Linked DNA regions of Homo sapiens: region 2 is linked to region 1. The links come from fine-mapping of genetic effects on gene expression. Tissue or cell type: lung. Region 1 holds a variant in brackets; the other region holds the start of a gene. All regions are shown on one strand. Distances are from middle to middle.

What was found. PIP is the estimated chance that this variant, and not a neighbour inherited with it, causes the effect.
Region 2: it holds the start of SLC16A4, and the variant in region 1 is fine-mapped to the expression of SLC16A4 in lung (TOPMed, PIP 0.95).

What each region holds. Positions count from the first base shown.
Region 1 is chr1:110,433,647-110,441,909 of GRCh38, reverse strand. No RefSeq gene overlaps it. Among named protein-coding and RNA genes, the nearest start is that of PROK1, 13 kb to the left of the region's middle. RefSeq lists a silencer at 7,817-8,006. The variant T/C (reference allele first, on the strand shown) is at 3,695.
Region 2 is chr1:110,387,271-110,395,270 of GRCh38, reverse strand. It overlaps SLC16A4 (solute carrier family 16 member 4), which reads left to right and starts at 4,245. Exons shown (of 9, transcript NM_004696.3): 1 at 4,245-4,406; 2 at 5,916-6,034. The coding sequence starts at 5,948.

The DNA of each region.
Region 1 (8,263 bases):
TCACAATGCCTAAGGAGTCTACAAAGAAACTGAGAGCCACAGGCAGGGTAAAAACCGCTTCACTGCCCAGAGGGGAGATGGCTCAGGCTGACCCAGGAGGCCAGGGAGAAGCCAGCCACAGAGGGGAAAGGGCTTTCTCTCCACAGCTCTCTCTCCTGCCCGCTGCTAGGGCAGGACTTGGCATTTTCACCCTCAAGGTTTCATCCCAAGGCAGTCTGGTCTGTTTCTACCCCCTCACCACACGGAGAAGGAACCTGAACCCATAAGTTCCTGAACCCAGAAGGAACCTGAACCCAGAAGTCATGAAAGTGCCTAAGTCACATAGCTAGACACTGGCAGAACCCAAACTCCACCCAGCTATGGCCCAGGAGGAGGAGGCCTGGAATGAAGAAGCCTGGGTTTGAGTCCCAGCTCTGCCACTGAGATCAGCTGGATTCCCTCACTCCTTCCAGTCTCTATCTTCAGGACCTGCCTCACCTCCCAGATTTTTAAGGGAACCGAAGGAGAGAGGGTGGGCTAACACGCCTGTGGACTGGGATATCTTTCATGATGGGACATTGCTCTTCAGCCCCATTGGAGCCCTCATCATTTAGCTGGAAAGGTGAAAAGGAGAGTTGTTCTAACAGAACCATCTTCTCAGGCCACAGGGCTGGGACTATTGTTTAAGAACATTCCATGATAACTTGGCAGAGCCTAGGAAAGGAGGTGCAGCAGCAGGATCTCAGGGTAAGCAGTGTTTGCACTTCCTCATGCCTGGTCAGCCTTAGGCACAGGATGGGGGCTCACTTAGGAGCTGAGCTGTCGAGTTGGCTGACCAGTCAAGAAGGACTGGAAAAAAGGCACGAGAGGCCTTTTTCTTTTTTAGACAGAGTCTTGCTCTATCACCAAGGCTGGAATGCAGTGACGCAATCTGGGCTCACTGCAACCCCCACCTCCCAGGTTCAAGTGATTCTTGTGCCTAAGCCTGCCAAGCAGCTGGGATTACAGGAGTGTGCCACCACACCCAGCTAATTTTTTGTATTTTGGGTAGAGGACGGGGTTTCTCCATGTTGGCCAGGCTGGTCTTGAACTCCTGGCCTCAAGAGATCCACCCACCTCAGCCTCCCAAAGTGCTGGAATTGCAGGTGTGAGCCACTGCCCCTGGCCACAAGAGACATTAATAAGCTCCACCGTCTCCTTCTACCATCCTGCCATGATGCCCATCCCATCCCACCTTCCCCTCCTACTCTGGGGCTTCTCCCACCGGCCCCCACACCAGGTTTGTTAATGCTCTCCAGTCTCAGCCCCCTGCTCTGTCCTTGGGATGGGGTCTCCCTGAAGGTTCATATTTGGGGGAATCTGGTGCACAGGAGGGAAAGGCAGCATGGGGGCCCTGAGCCCAGAGGCAGCCTTAACAGTCTGGACCTGCTGGAGCTTTTCGCAAAAGGCCCCGCCCAGAAGAAAGCTTGGGGCCCTTCTCTCTTAGCCTGCGTTCCCAAACTTGGAGCCCAAGGCTGAGTTTGGGGGTTAGGTTGGAAACTTAACAGGACAATGTCCTATCCCACCTGCCTTACCAGCCTTAGGTCCCCCCACCCACACACCAGAAAGTCCAGCCTGCTAATCTTCTGATCATCTTCTTCCCCAGCAGCCCTCAATTTCCACCTCCCACCACCCTGTCACCTGTCAGCTTCCAAACACTCTAACCCTATGTATTAGTCCATTCTCACATTACTATAAGGAAATACCCAAGAATGTGTAATTTATAAAGAAAAGAGATTTAATTGACTCACAGTTCCGCATGGCTGGGGAAGTCTCAGGAAACTTACAATCATGGCAGAAATCACTTCTTCACAGGGTGGCAGGAGAGAGAATGAGTGCCAGCAGGGGAAATACCAGACACTTATAAAACCATCAGATCTCATGAGAACTCACTCACTATCACAAAAGCAGCATGGGGGAAACCACTCCCATGATTCAATTACCTCCCACTGGGTCCCGCACTTGACACGTGGGAATTATTACAATTCAAGATGAGATTTGGGTGGGGACACAGAGCCAAACCATACATCACCCTATAAGGCACAGTCCCAGGACTGCACTCTCTCTCTGGTCCACTGCAGGCCGAGTTCCAGAGCCAGAGAGTGGGTGCGCTGTTTTAGGGTAGGTCTTGAAATGGCAACCAAGCTTATGAGGAAGAAGAAGTGAACGAATTGCAGATGCCTAGCCTGAAAAAGCAGCCATGATGGCAACCTTCCACTGCAGTGATCCATTACTGGGCAGTCTACGTGCATTGTCTGATGTCCTGAGTAGACATCACTACCCCACCACTACTCCAGCTGAGGAAACGAAGGCTCCATGATGGCCCAAAGTCACACAGATAGTAAGTCACAGGGCTAAAACCTGACCCCAAATCTAACTCTAGATGCTCACACTTCTGACTGCTGTGCCGCACTGCCTCTCACATATGAGAGAGTTGTGTTGCCCCAAAAGGCAAAATAGGATCAAAGTGTGGAAGGTACAGGGAAGAAGATTTTAGCCCAGTATAAGGAAGAATATCCCAGCAGACAAGGGAATTGGCTGCTATGGAAGCAATGAGCTTCTCATTGCTAAATATGTTCAGAAATAGGCCTTACAGCTGACCCTCTGTCAGGGAGGATATGGAGGGGATTTTTCTCCTTAGTACCCTTTAAGATCCTAAGAGACTGAGTATACAAATGGACAACAGCCAGACCATATCTAAAAACAGGGATTGCACCTACAATCTGCAGCAGCAAGTCCAGGAAACCAACCCCTTATCTACCATAAACAATCCAGGAAGCCCGGCTACCATAAGTCAGACTTGCAACAAATCATGCTGCTATCTCTCACAGTAATCCAGAAAACCAAAAAATAACCGCTGTAAACAATCAGCCCCAAATGGCCAGGACTTGATTAATAACCAACAGCACCCGCCCCCGCTAATTTTTGTCCCCACTTCCAACTCAGGACAAACCAGAGAAAGCTAAATATGCACCCCCTACCAATCACATAGGATGCCCCGCTTCTAGTGAGCCTGCCTACAGCTTCCCCAGGCCAGCAGCCCCCAATCAGGAAACACCTGAAGCCTTCCCTTTTTCCCACTGTAAACCTTTCCCACTCCTCTGCCTGCCTTTAGGTCTCATCAATACGCAAGTGAGGGTGGCGGTCTCCCTTGCTATAGCAAGCTTGGGCCAAGTAGCTTTTGCTTGTCTCATTTGGTCTTCGTTTATTTCCACAATCCTTCCAAATGCTAAGATTCAAATGAATGAGTGTGTGTGTGTGTGTGTGTGTGTGTGTGTGTGTGTGTGTGTTTCTATGCCCAGGTGCGATCATGTATACCCACATGCATAAGTATACATCTCATATGTTACTCTTGCCTGTGGATCGCTGGCATCCTAGGCCCAGCTCATGGACTTTCTGGACCCCAAGGGTTCCTGATAGCAGGTTCCCCTGGTGCCCCACAACATCATGTCCCCTGGGCCCATCTTTGGTTTCAGGAACAGCTGAGATAGAAAATTCCATGTGAGCTCAGATTCACTTTCACTCGCATCAGTGAAGAGACCACCAAACAGGCTTTGTGTGAGCAACAAGGCTGTTTATTTCACCTGGGTGCAGGTGGGCTGAGTCCGAAAAGAGTCAGCGAAGGGAGATAGGGGTGGGGCCGTTTTATAAGATTTGGGTGGATAGTGGAAAATTA[T/C]AGTCAAAGGGGGTTGTTCTCTGGTGGCAGGGGCTGGGGCCATAAGGTGCTCAGTGGGGGAGCTTTTGAGCCAGGATGAGCCAGGAGAAGGAATTTCACAAGGTAATGTCATCAGTTAAGGCAGGGACCGGCCATTTTCGCTTCTTTTGTGGTGGAATGTCATAAGTTAAGGCAGGATCGGGCCATTTTCACTTCTTTTGTGATTCTTCAGTTACTTCAGGCCATCTGGATGTATACGTGCAGGTCACAGGGGATATGATGGCTTAGCTTGGGCTCAGAGGCCTGACATTCACCTTGTGCTAACAGGGTCAACCTGGAAAACCGTTTTTTCCCATGTGATGCCCACGGCCTCTCTACTGCAGGAGCTCAACCCACTCATCAGCACAGCCTGCAAGTACAGGAAGTTAATCCCTCCCCACTGGAGGAACCCTCAACCAGAGGGAGTAGGAACCAGTGGGTGAATGCTCCAACTCAGAGGGCCTTAGACCTCTTCTCTGGGGGCTATGGAAGAATCCAGCCTGCAATCTGGAGAACACATTATTTCTCAGCATTCCTTCTTTCCTTGCTTCTTTCCCCCCACTCTTTCTTCTATTTTCTGGAATCACCTTCAGATAAACTACTGGCACCCAAGCCTTTGCCTCTGGCTCTGTTTTGTGGGGAACCCAAGCTAAGATGTCACCTCAACATTTTAGGACTTTATTTTTCTTCTCTTCAAAATAAGGGGCTTTCAGACACAGTGCCTTGGGGGCTATCCTGGGAGGAAGGGTATCCTCCCTGTGGCTAGAAGAGTCCAGCAGAAAGCTGCCCACACCACTGGGACAGAGCAGCTCCAAATGCAGCAATTTCACATAGTTGGGGTCCACGTGAGTTCACTTTCTGAAAGGACTTGTGCTTTGACATCTTGGAAGACCAGTGCCTGAGCTCATCTTTGATTTCAGCAGCAGCTGAGATAGAAAATTCCACCTGAGCACAGATTCAGCCAGGTTTTTGGCAATTGCCCTTCTTCCATCCAACTCTGAAGGCAGTTTCAGAAAGAAGAGCCCAGGCTCCCAGCTGCTCCTGCTGAGGTGGAGCCCGTTGTCTGAAGCTGCCTTACAGGGCCTCCTGTCCAAGGACATAAGGTCTCATCAAAATGAAGCATGGGGTTAGTTAGTATGCGCACTTGGCTGGATATTTCCAATAAATTTCTGGACATTCCTATGTGAAATAAATTTCTTCTTGTAAGAGGATCCCTCAGGCACTAGAAACCTCTCTGGTTTATTAGCTCGCTGACCCTCCTATAAATGTCAAAGCCATCCCCTAGATGGGAGCCCAGCAATGTCTTTGAAGTGGCAGAGGCCATAAACATTCCACGACTGCCTTACTAATGGCAGAGGCTCTCACAGACAATCAAGGCCCTTCAGCCTCCTTGCACGCTAGTGACTCCCACACAGGCAGGAAGATGCCAGAGTTGGCGGGAAAGGAGGGCAATTGCTAAAAGCCAGAGGCCCAGAAACGTGGAAAGCTGTGGTCGGCGGGACTCCCTTCCCTGAAGGAGTCAGAGAAGATGTCTTCCCCTTTGTGCTGGCAAGATCAGAGTTCTCAGGAGAGGAGAACCCAGGAGTCAATGCTCCCAGCTAGTCTCCATCTGGTCTAGCTTCTCTCCAGGCATAGTTGGAGCGTGGGCCAAAGAAAACTCAGTCAGGGGACGGCAGGCAGAAAGCCACCAAAGGGCCAAAGCCACTAGTCCTGCCCCTGAGTTTTCTGTGTGTGGTCTCCTCTGGCCTTGATTTTCCACCCACAGAATGGGGTGAACGCCCCTCTGAAAATCACAGAATGTTAGAAGCAACAAAGGCTTAGATCTTCCAGCACAGTCTCTTCAAGTCTGAGCGCGGCTGGTCCAGCTTCCTCCTGGCCAGATCCCTGCTCATCCTATACTGTTGCTCACTCAGTGCTCCCAGGTCACCCCCCAAAATTGTTTCATGGCCCTTTGTTAATTCAAGGCATCTTCCCCAGCACCTGACCTTTTAGGTACAGAGATCACATGTAACCCAAAGGGCAGCACTATTACAAATAGGCCTTCTTAAGTAGCTATTTCCACGGCAAAAAATGAGTGGTGCTCTAGTGCAATTTTTCTAACTATTTGACTATGACCCACCATAAGAAATAAACTAGAGCCCAGCACCCACAAGCACGAATTTATGTTTATATAAAACTAAAATCAAGGGTTTATGAAATAATACTTATCCCTATCACAGGCAATGCACTCTGATATATTTTCTATTCTAGTCTAATCTGTTTCATCTTTTAGTACTGGTTGCAACTCGCTAAACCAGGGATCAGCAAATATTTTCTGCAAAAGGCCTGAGAGTAAATATTTTAGGCTTTGATGACTATATGATCTCTGTCCCAAGTAATTAAATTAACTCTGCCATTGTAGTGGGAAAGCTGCCATTGACAATAGGAAACGAGTGGGGGTAGCGGTGTTCCAATGAAACTTTATTCATACAAATAAATAAAGGCTGAATTTGCCCCATAAGCTGTGATCTAAACTGATTTCATGACCCACTAATGGATCTCAATCCACAGTTTGAAAAACATTGCTGTAGGGGACCACTCCCCAAGTCTTTTCCTCTAACAGAAACCAAGTTTTGCTCAGTGTGTACCTCTCCTACAGGTAATGCAATTCCCCAGGGTACTTAGAAGCTGTGCTTCAGGGGAAGCTGACCATATTCCCAGCACTAGCACTGCATCTTGAACAGTCAACCCACCACATTGTTCACCTGTAACTGCGGATGATCCAGGGGTGTACAGGTGAACTACGCTGGCCTGATTAGTCAGAAGGGAAGGCCATAAAGTCTATGCTTGGGAGAGTGGTTTCTTTCTTTCTACAGCTGGGTGAATCAAGCAATCATGGAGCCCTTCTCCTTCCACCATCGGTAGTTGGAGAGTCGGGACCATCAGAGTAACCAGTCTTAGGAAAAAAGCCAATGCTGAGGATGACAGAGCAGAAAGATGAAAGAACCTGGATCCTTGATTTGACCACATGTTAATTGAATTTAAGCCAGGCTCTCTATCTCTTGTACCCAGAAGCATTCTGATACAAACACAGTACATCAAGAGGCAGGCTCCTGCCCGAAGACAGCACATTGGCTCTATCCCAAACAAATGCAAGCTTCTGGGGAAAGATCAGACAAGTTCCCATTCCAAGCAGCCAGGGACCCAAGCCCTTCACCAGCTGACTGGAGTCCCTCTCCCCAGTGGTGCCAGCCCCACAGAAGCCAGCAGCCTTTAAGGTGTTCTAAGCTCTGGATCCAGTGCTCTTTCCTTCCTCACATAGGCTGGTAAAAGTAGGAGTAAGTGAAATCAGGACCAACTCACTCTATTTTTTTTTCTTTCTTTTTTTTAGATGGAGTCTTGCTCTGTTGCCCAGGCTGGAGTGCAGTGGCACCTCCACCTCTCGGGTTCAAGCGATTCTCAAACCTCAGCCTCCTGAGTAGCTGGGATTACAGGTGCATGCCCCCACACCCAGCTAATTTTTGTATTTTTAGGAAAGACGGGTTTTCACCACGTTGGCCAGGCTCGTCTCGAACTCCTGACCTCAAGTGATCTGCCTGCCTCGACCTCCCGAAGTGCTGGAATTACAATTGTGAGCCACTGTGACCAGCCAACTCACTCTAATTTCTTAATTTAAAAAGCCTCCCATTAGCTGCCTGCTGAAGGAAGGCAGATTCCATGGAAGTTTACATTTTTCAGATGGGTGGTTGTCAGAATAGAAACTTTTCATCCAAATGGGAGATATTGGGCATCCAAGTTGACCCCCGACACCCACCCTGTGGCCTGGGGGGAAACAGACAGGACCACCGCTTTATTGATAAGGCTGCCAGGAGCGAAAAGAAAGGAAAATACTTAATGCCACTGAATCGTACACTCAAAAATGGTTAAAATAGTAAATTCTAAGTTATTCGCATTTCACCACAATTTTAAAAGACTGAAAAGAAGGAAACAGAGTCACATGAGTAGCTCTGAGGGCAGCAGGGCAGGGAGATCACATGTTGAAATCCTACAGAAACTCCTTAGAAAGACAGGCATGAAACACTGTCCTGAGCGTGAGTCTGTACTGCCAGGAAGGCCTGGGTGCAGGTTAGCTCAGGGGTGTGAGTCTGATGGGCTGGTCACACGGGGAAAGGCCTGGGGCTGAGTCAGTGGCAGCAACAAAGCCAGAACCTCCCAGCAGGTGGCTTTCTCTCACTCTCCAGCCTTTCGGCCTGCCCCTGCCCCCACTGTGGGCTGAGAGTGCAGGAGGAGCTTCTGTTGGGCAATCACTCTCAGCAGGCACTGTGACAGGTCCCTAAAAGGGCCAGGAGGATGGAGAGAACTAAGGAAAATGACAAGTTCACCAAGGACTTGGACTAGTTGGTGCCAAGTGCACTTTGTAGGCCCCTGGCCAGCGCCAGGAGGAGACACAAGGGGACAAAGATGCCCAGGTCCCCAGCATCCAAAGCAGAGACTCTGGGTTTCACTCAGAGGCCAATGCTTGTGCAGATAGTAAGAAGGCAGGCAGGCAGGCATTATATCCACTCCTTCCAC
Region 2 (8,000 bases), 47 kb after region 1:
CAGCCTGGCCAATATGGTGAAATCCCATTTCTACTAAAAATCCAAAAAAATTAGCTGGGTGTGGTGGTGCACATGATCCCAGCTACTCAGGAGGATGAGGCACAAGAATCACCTGAACCCAGGAGGCGGAGGTTGCAGTGAGATGAGATTGTGCCATTGCACTCCAGCCTGGGCTGTGACTGAGCGAGACCCTGTATCCAAAAAAAAAAATAAGTTCTAACCATGACCTCCCAACCCCTGCATAATTCAAGCCCTGCTAACCCCTTGGGCCACATCTCATGCCACCCTGTGTCTACCACATATCCCCCTCTGGCACAGCGTCTGGCACATAGGAAGCAATTGTTTTTATTGAATGAAATAAATGAACATACATTCTCATTTATTCTTCACAGCACCCTTTGAGGTAGGATATAATGTATCCAATTTATCAATGAAACATAAGATGTGCTGGAAAGAGCTTGAGGCTGGAAAAGGCTCATTTTCTAGTCTGTACAGAGCCAAAGCTGAAGTATGCTTGTATGAGGGAGTCCCAGGACACTTCTATAATAGTTAATTTTATGTGTCAGCTTGGCTGGGCTATGGGATGCTCAGGTATTTGGCTAGACATTATTTTGGGGTGTAACCGTGAAGGTGTTTCTGGATGAGATCAGCATTTGAATCAGTAGACTGAAGAAGACTGCCCTCCCCAATGTGAGCGGAACTCATGCAATCCATTAAAGGCCTGAATAGAATAAAAGGCTAAGAAAGAATTTCTCACTGCCTGACTGTCTTGGAGTCGGGACATCAGTCTTCTCCTGACTTTGGACTCAAACTCAGAATGGAACTTACACAAATGGCTCTCCTGGTTCTCAGGCCCTCTCAGACTAAAACTTACACCATCAGCACTTCTGGTTTTCAGGCTTCTGGACTCAGACTGGAACTACACCATCAACTCTCTTGAGTGTCCCGCTTGCTGACCAGAGTGCAGGCTTTTCAGTCTCCATAATCATGTGAGTCAATTCTCATAGTAAATCAACCTTAATATCTCCTCCCCCATCACTGGTTCTTGCTCTGGAGAATATTCTATTCTTTCTCGAGAACCCAGACTCATTCAACCCCTCAGGTTTGATAATTCACTAGGATGACTCACAGGACTGAGCATTTAGTTGTTGTACTTACATGGTTTATTAAAGTGAAAGGATACAAAGCTGACTCAACAAAGGCAAAAGGAGGATGGGGCAAAGTCCAGAAGAAACCAGGCAGAAGCTTGCAAGAATTCTTCTATCAGTGAAGATACACAGGATGCAGTTAATTCCTCCAGCAATGAGTTGTAACAACATGTGTGAAATGTTGCCAATCCAGAAAGCTTAGTAGAGACTCAGTGCCCAAGGGGGCTGGTCACCAAAGTACCCTCTCTGCCTAGCACATATCAAAATTCCAAGCTCCCGAAAAAAGCAAATGTTCAGCATAAAAATTGTATTGTTTACATAGTTTAAGCACAATGATTCACTATTATCATTTAAGGAATGGTAGGAACCCTCCTGAAATCTAAGTTCCCAGTTGCCAGCCAGAGGCCAACCATGTAAACAGGCCTTTCAAAGAATAGGAATCTCAGGCCAGCGATGTTAACTCTTTTCTGAACAAGGATTGAATGAGGGCAAGGAGAGAGTCAACTAAAAATAAAGTATCTTAATTCTAGTTGGTAAAGCTTATTAAAGTCTAAATCCATAAGTGTTAAAAATTATTCCTGGGCTGGCTATGTTTGACACTGGGATGGGGGTAATAGTGGTGATTGCCAAATCATGCTGCATTCTTGCTGAATAGCTTTAGGGCCAAGAGTTAAAAGGTTAGAAGTTGAGGGAATTGTTTATGTTTCGTTAAAGACCCTACAAGCTTTATTAAGACAATTGGGTACAGATGCCAAAATGTTAACTAATATCCCAAAGGTGGCTTAAGAATTCTTTCTTCTTGCTATTAGGCCTCATTTGACTAACAAAAATTATTTTTCATGAACCAAGTACCAATAGTAGGTCCAATGTGCAGTCATCTTACATTATATATTGTTAATCCTCACAACAACCTTGCAAAATATTAGCTACGCTTTAGAGTTTTAGAAACAGACTCAAAGAGAGTAAATTGCCCAGAGTCTACGGGCTTAAAAACTGACAAAATTGAGATTATCACCAAGCCTGCATTTCTGTTCATGTGCCTCTATGAAACATATGTTTGAAGTTCATCTCTGATTACTTTGCTGTCCTCTTGGCCTCTATGAATGACTTGCTGTTCTGCCGCATTTCAAATCTGACCCCAGGCATTAGCATCAGAGTTCTCTATCAATATAAAGCCTATTATAAGACAAAGATGAATAGGAATATATACACACATATATAATGTATTGTTTACATAGGTTAGGCACAATGATTCACTATTATCATTTAAGGAATGGTAGGAACCCTCCTGAAATCTAACTTCCCAGTTGTATATGTTCCTATATGTATATGTGTGTATATATATATTCCTCTGTGTGTGTGTGTGTAAGAAAAATATATATATAGCCTAGCATCATTTCATCCTGTGATTAGAATTATGGATAGCTGGCTCCTTACAGTGGTTTATGCCTGTAATCCTAATACTTTGGGAGGTCAGGATGGGAGGATCGCTTGAGCCCAGGACATTGCAAACAGCCTGGGCAACAGAGTGAAACCCCCATCTCTTAAAAAAAAAAAAAATTAATTAGCTGAGCATGGTGGTGCATGCCTGTAGTCCCAGCTACTCAGGAGGCTGAGGTAGGAGGATTGCTTGAGCTGGGGAGGTCAAGGCTGCAGTAAACCATGATTATGCCACTGACTCCAGCCTGGGCAATAGAGCAGGCCCTGTCTCAAGAAAAAAAGAAATCATAGATAGCCCTGCTTTAAAAGAGCAACAAGCGTGCCACCAAAAAAATAAATAAATCAGTCTTGTTTACTAAAAAATGTTTTCAGGCTGGCCACGGTGGCTTACGTCTGTAATCCCAGCACTTTGGCAGGCTAAGGCAGGCGGATTGCCTGAGCTCAGGAGTTTGAGACCAGCCCGGGCAACACGGTGAAACCCCGTTTCTACTAAAATACAAAAAATTAGCTGGGCGTGGTGGTATGCGCCTGTAGTACCAGGTACTTGGGAGACTGAGGCAGGAGAATCACTTGAACACGGGAGGCAGAGGTTGCAGTGAACCGAAATTGCACCACTGCACTCCAGCCTGGGCGACAGAGTGAGACTCTGTCTCAAAAAAAAAAAAGTTGTCTAGAGTGTATTCATAATTACAAACAGCTCTCTGAAAAGCATTTATTTGCCTTCTCTCTTTGGGTTTTCTCCTTCTGTTGAATGTTTATTTGATCCTTGCCACCAGCATCATGTAACTGCATAATCCTTCCATGCTTACACTTACAGGGCACCCTCCCAAACCACTAAGCTGTCCTTCTGCAAGCACTTTAATCAAAAAGTATTATAGAGTTTGATTTTAAGAATCTGAGAAGCCTCTTGCTTCTTAAAAAGGAACATGCATAAATATGTGCAGATTTTCCAGATAAAACTAAAAACACATCCTTTCGTCTAAAATATACTCTGGTTTAAAATCTGGAATATTGGTGTGGGAGACGAAAGACAATTTCCCATTTGACTTGTTTGTTTTGTTTTGTTTTATGTGGAGGGTAGAGGGAGGAAATGGGAAGAGAAAGTTGAATTATCCCAGTAATTTTCTAGGGGTCTCAGCCTTAACCATTTCCAAAATATAATAAAAAAAATCTCATTAAAATTACTACGAGCATACGTCTTTTGCAGGAGGTGGTTGAGGTAATCAGATCTCAAAAATGCAATTAAAATGGGGTCTGAAACCCCAAATTAGTAACCAGAATCTTTAGTCAATATACAAAAGGCCACACGAATGGGTTGAGCTTACTGAAGATTTCTGTTTGTGGCCCAGGAAATGCCTCTCTCACCACCCATCCAGGAGTTTTATATTCTCCTGTAAAATAAGCATGTTGTGAGAAGTTCCCTGAGGAAATTTGAAGACAAGTGTATGAGAGCTCTGGAGCCCCATCCCCCTGCCCTGAGCATAGTCGCCAAAAGGACTTTCCACTTAGTTTACTTCATGCTTGCTTTTGAGCCTGCGGCAAAAAATTCTACCTTCTGAGTGACTGTGGGTGGAGGGAGGGCCTGAGATGACATCAAATCACAGTCTTTCCTCCTCCCCTCAGGAAGTAAAGTCCACTAGCAGGAGGGCCTAAATCGTCTGAGCCCTCCTTGGCTCTTACAATGCTCACTTGTTTTCACAATGCAGCAAAATGAAATGCCTTAGAAAAAGAGTAACATTCCAGAAAACGGTGTAATTTATTTTTCTTCCTTAATTGCCCCATCTGTGGAGGATTTCTTTGCTGAACACCACATCAAAGGTAAGATGGGAATGGGACTGTGTGCTGGGTTGGTTTTCTAACAACGACTGGCATCTCTCCCCACCCAGCCTGCTCACCAGATGGCCATTCCGCATACCCTGCCAGCTGACTTTCCTTTCCAGTTAGAAACAGTCAGCCTTCGACCCGACAGGGGAAATAATGAGTACTGTTCCCCCTTCCTCAGAACATTTACATTTTCTTTTTGCTATCATTCTTTATATACACTTGTTTATTTTACGGAACCGATTGGGAGAAGGTAGCATAGTGTCATGTTACTCCTGAATACTTTAGCATGTATCTCCTAAGAATATTCTCTTGTGGAAGAGGTTCCAAGAGGTTAACCTTGGTACAGTATTCTGTATTATACAGTCCATATTCAAATTTCCCCAACTGTCCCCACAAACTGTCTTTTACAACTTTTTTTTCTGATCTAGGATATATTCAATAAGCGGGTATCGCATTTCGTTGTCATGTCTGTTTAGCTCCAAAAATATTTACATTTAGCAAGTGTTTTCTAAGGAGAATTCCTAAACTCAAGGCTCGCCTTCCCTTTCTATTTCTCTTAAGAGTTCACCCGGAGGACCAGCAGGGTGACGCACAGCTTCTCCAAGAAACTGGCTTGCAGACCTGGGGGGAGGGACACTGAGTACAGTTCTAGGAGTGGCCACCCCACAGTCACTGAGATCAGGCTTTCCAGGTAACTAAGTCCTTAGTTGCATCAGGCAGACTTCATCTGTAACTGAGGGGTTAAAAAAAAATTACAAGTGGTTTTATATCATAGGGAAAGAGGTTTTTTTTCTGTTTTGTATTACATTTCAACTTTTATTTTAGATTCAGGGGGTACATGTGTAGGTTTGTTACAAAGGCATATTGTCTGATGCTGAGATTTGGAGTATAATTGAACCCCTCACCCAGATAGTGAGCACAGCATCCAATAGGGAGTTTTTCAACCCTCCTCCCTCCCTATCTTGTAGTCCCCAGTGTCTGTGGTTCCCCTCTTTATGTCCATATGTACCCAATTTTTAGCTCCCACTTATAAGTGAGAACATGCAGTATTTGGTTGTTTCTGCATCAATTTGCTCAAGATAATGGTCCAGCTGCATCCATATTGCTGGAAAGGATATGATTTTGTTCTTTTTTATGGTGGCTGTGTAGTATTCCATGGTGTCTATGTATCACATTTTCTTTATCCAACCCACTGTTGATGAGCACGTAGGTTGATTCCATGTCTTTGCTATTGTGAATAATGCTGCAGTGAACATAAAAGTGCATGTGGCTTTTTGGTAGAACAATTTATCTTCCTTTGGGTATATACCCAGGAATGGGATTACTGGGTCAAATGGTAGTTCAATTTTTGGTTCTTTCAGAAATCTCCAAACTGCGTTGCACAGTGGCTGAACTAATTTGCATTCCCACCAACAATGTATGAACGTTCCCTTTCAGATAAAAAGTTTAAAAGTTTAGATTAGTTTCTGGTCCACTGAATCAACTGTCTTGGATTTATCACAGGGATCTTCTGCATTTAAAATAGAAGAGGCATCATGCTGAAGAGGGAGGGGAAGGTCCAACCTTACACTAAAACCCTGGATGGAGGATGGGGATGGATGATTGTGATTCATTTTTTCCTGGTAAGAATTCACTTTTTTCCCCCTTTCCTATTGCCTAAAAGCAGGCTTTCTGGAGAAAGGCTCAGAGCTGCCTACGAATAGGATCACTTAGGAAATCTTTGGCATCTGAGTGGAGGGGTGGGCAGGAACAAGGCCAGGAGCTGCCAAAAACTGCTAAAGTCAGAGGCCCATGCCGAACCCAGGAGAAAGTTGAAAATGCCCCTAGAGCAAAAGCAGAAATGTTCCTGGGCTGGGTGTGGGGGCTCACACCTATAATCCCAGCACTTTGGGAGGCCTAGGTGTGTGGATCACTTGAAGTCAGGAGTTCGAGACCAGCCTAGCTAACATGGTGAAACCCGATCACTACAAAAATACAAAAATTAGCTGAGTGCAGTGGCATGCACCTGTAGTCCCAGCTACTTGGGAGGCTGAGGCAGGAGAATTGCTTGAAATCAGGAGGTGGAGACTGAAGTGAGCCAAGATCGTGCCACTGCACTGCAGCCTAGGCAACCATGAGAGACTCTCTCAAAACAAACAAACAGAAGTGTTCCTGAATCCAGTCATCTACTCTTCCTATCATCTCTTAAACCTGAGAATGCTCAGTCACAATCAGCAGTTCTGTACTGGCTGCATGGCAATTAGGGTTTGGGGACAATCATACTTTTAACCATCCCAAAAGTAGCACTGGGAGGTGCTAAAAAGTGCTCTGGGGGTGATCTCCCCAGTTCAGCCCAGCATAGATAGAACACTGTGGGCACAGCCCCTTCTACCGATAAGGGGTGGGGACATTTCCTCTGTTTGGCCTGCTGTCTACTTCCCAATCCATCCCCACTAACTATAGTTTATGCTATCTATATTTCCGATGTGTTTGGAAAGGGAGGACAAGGATTTTGAAGGGGGAGCCTGATTCTTCTCCTTTACCCATAAGCAACTAGACGAGGCATTCCATTTTTTAAATTAACTTCTTTCCCTCACCCTCCCAGGGGTTGAGGTGTGAGAGTGGTGATCTGCATCATCAGCATGCCCATTCCAGAATGTTGGTGAACCCCAGCTATGCCCCACACAGCTCTCCAGAGAGTGGCACCAGCTGCACAATTCTTAAGTGTTTCCAGAGTTCTATTAACTTTGAGATGCACTCAAAAAAAAACACCCTTTTCTTGCCGACACTTCCCCCCTACTCAGCCCTACAGTAAGCAGCTCACGGGGAAAGGTAGCACAGGTCTTGGTGCCTTCTAATAATCCTATAGTTCACATGCAGATATCTAAGAATTCTACAAATAGGATGGTGGGAAAACATCAGGCCTCCTCCCTCGTGCTAGACAAGATAGGGGCAGAGGTCCCCAGCCAGGATTTATGTAATACAAAACTCTTAACACATAATAGTAGTACTTGCTAAACATTAGCTTCAGTACTAAACAATCTCATTTTCCCCCTAGAAATGTTACTAATAGGGAAACTAAAGGATGCCCTAAGTCTGAGAGCCCTTCCTGGGGCTGGGCCACCCCCCTAAATCATAGGCTTTGCAGAATAGGCACTGTTGGTGAGGATCTCTAATTCTCCTGCCTTTCTCCCCAGTAACCACCCTGACTTTTTCTACATTATCCTCTGAGGATAGAATGGTTTTTGATCAATTTAGTTGCTGATAGGAAAAACCATCTAATAACCAGATTAATAAACACTGTCCCACTTTTAGGGTGTGATACTGCTTACTAAGCACAAAAAATGCACTGGATCCTCAAAATGTTAACAATAAATTCAGGGGCTAATCCCCCACAGTTGTAATGTGGATACTTGAATGACTGTGCTTTTGTTTCTGTATGACTTACAACTGTTCTTTTCTATAACAGATGAGCTCCTAGTAAGTGAAAAATAACAATGTTCTTTGGGAGCTTCCTACTTAAAAAAAGAGAGAGAGATTCATTCTAACCAACTTACCACACTTTATATATTTGTATGACTGTTTTCTGTATTCAGTCTGTCTTACTAG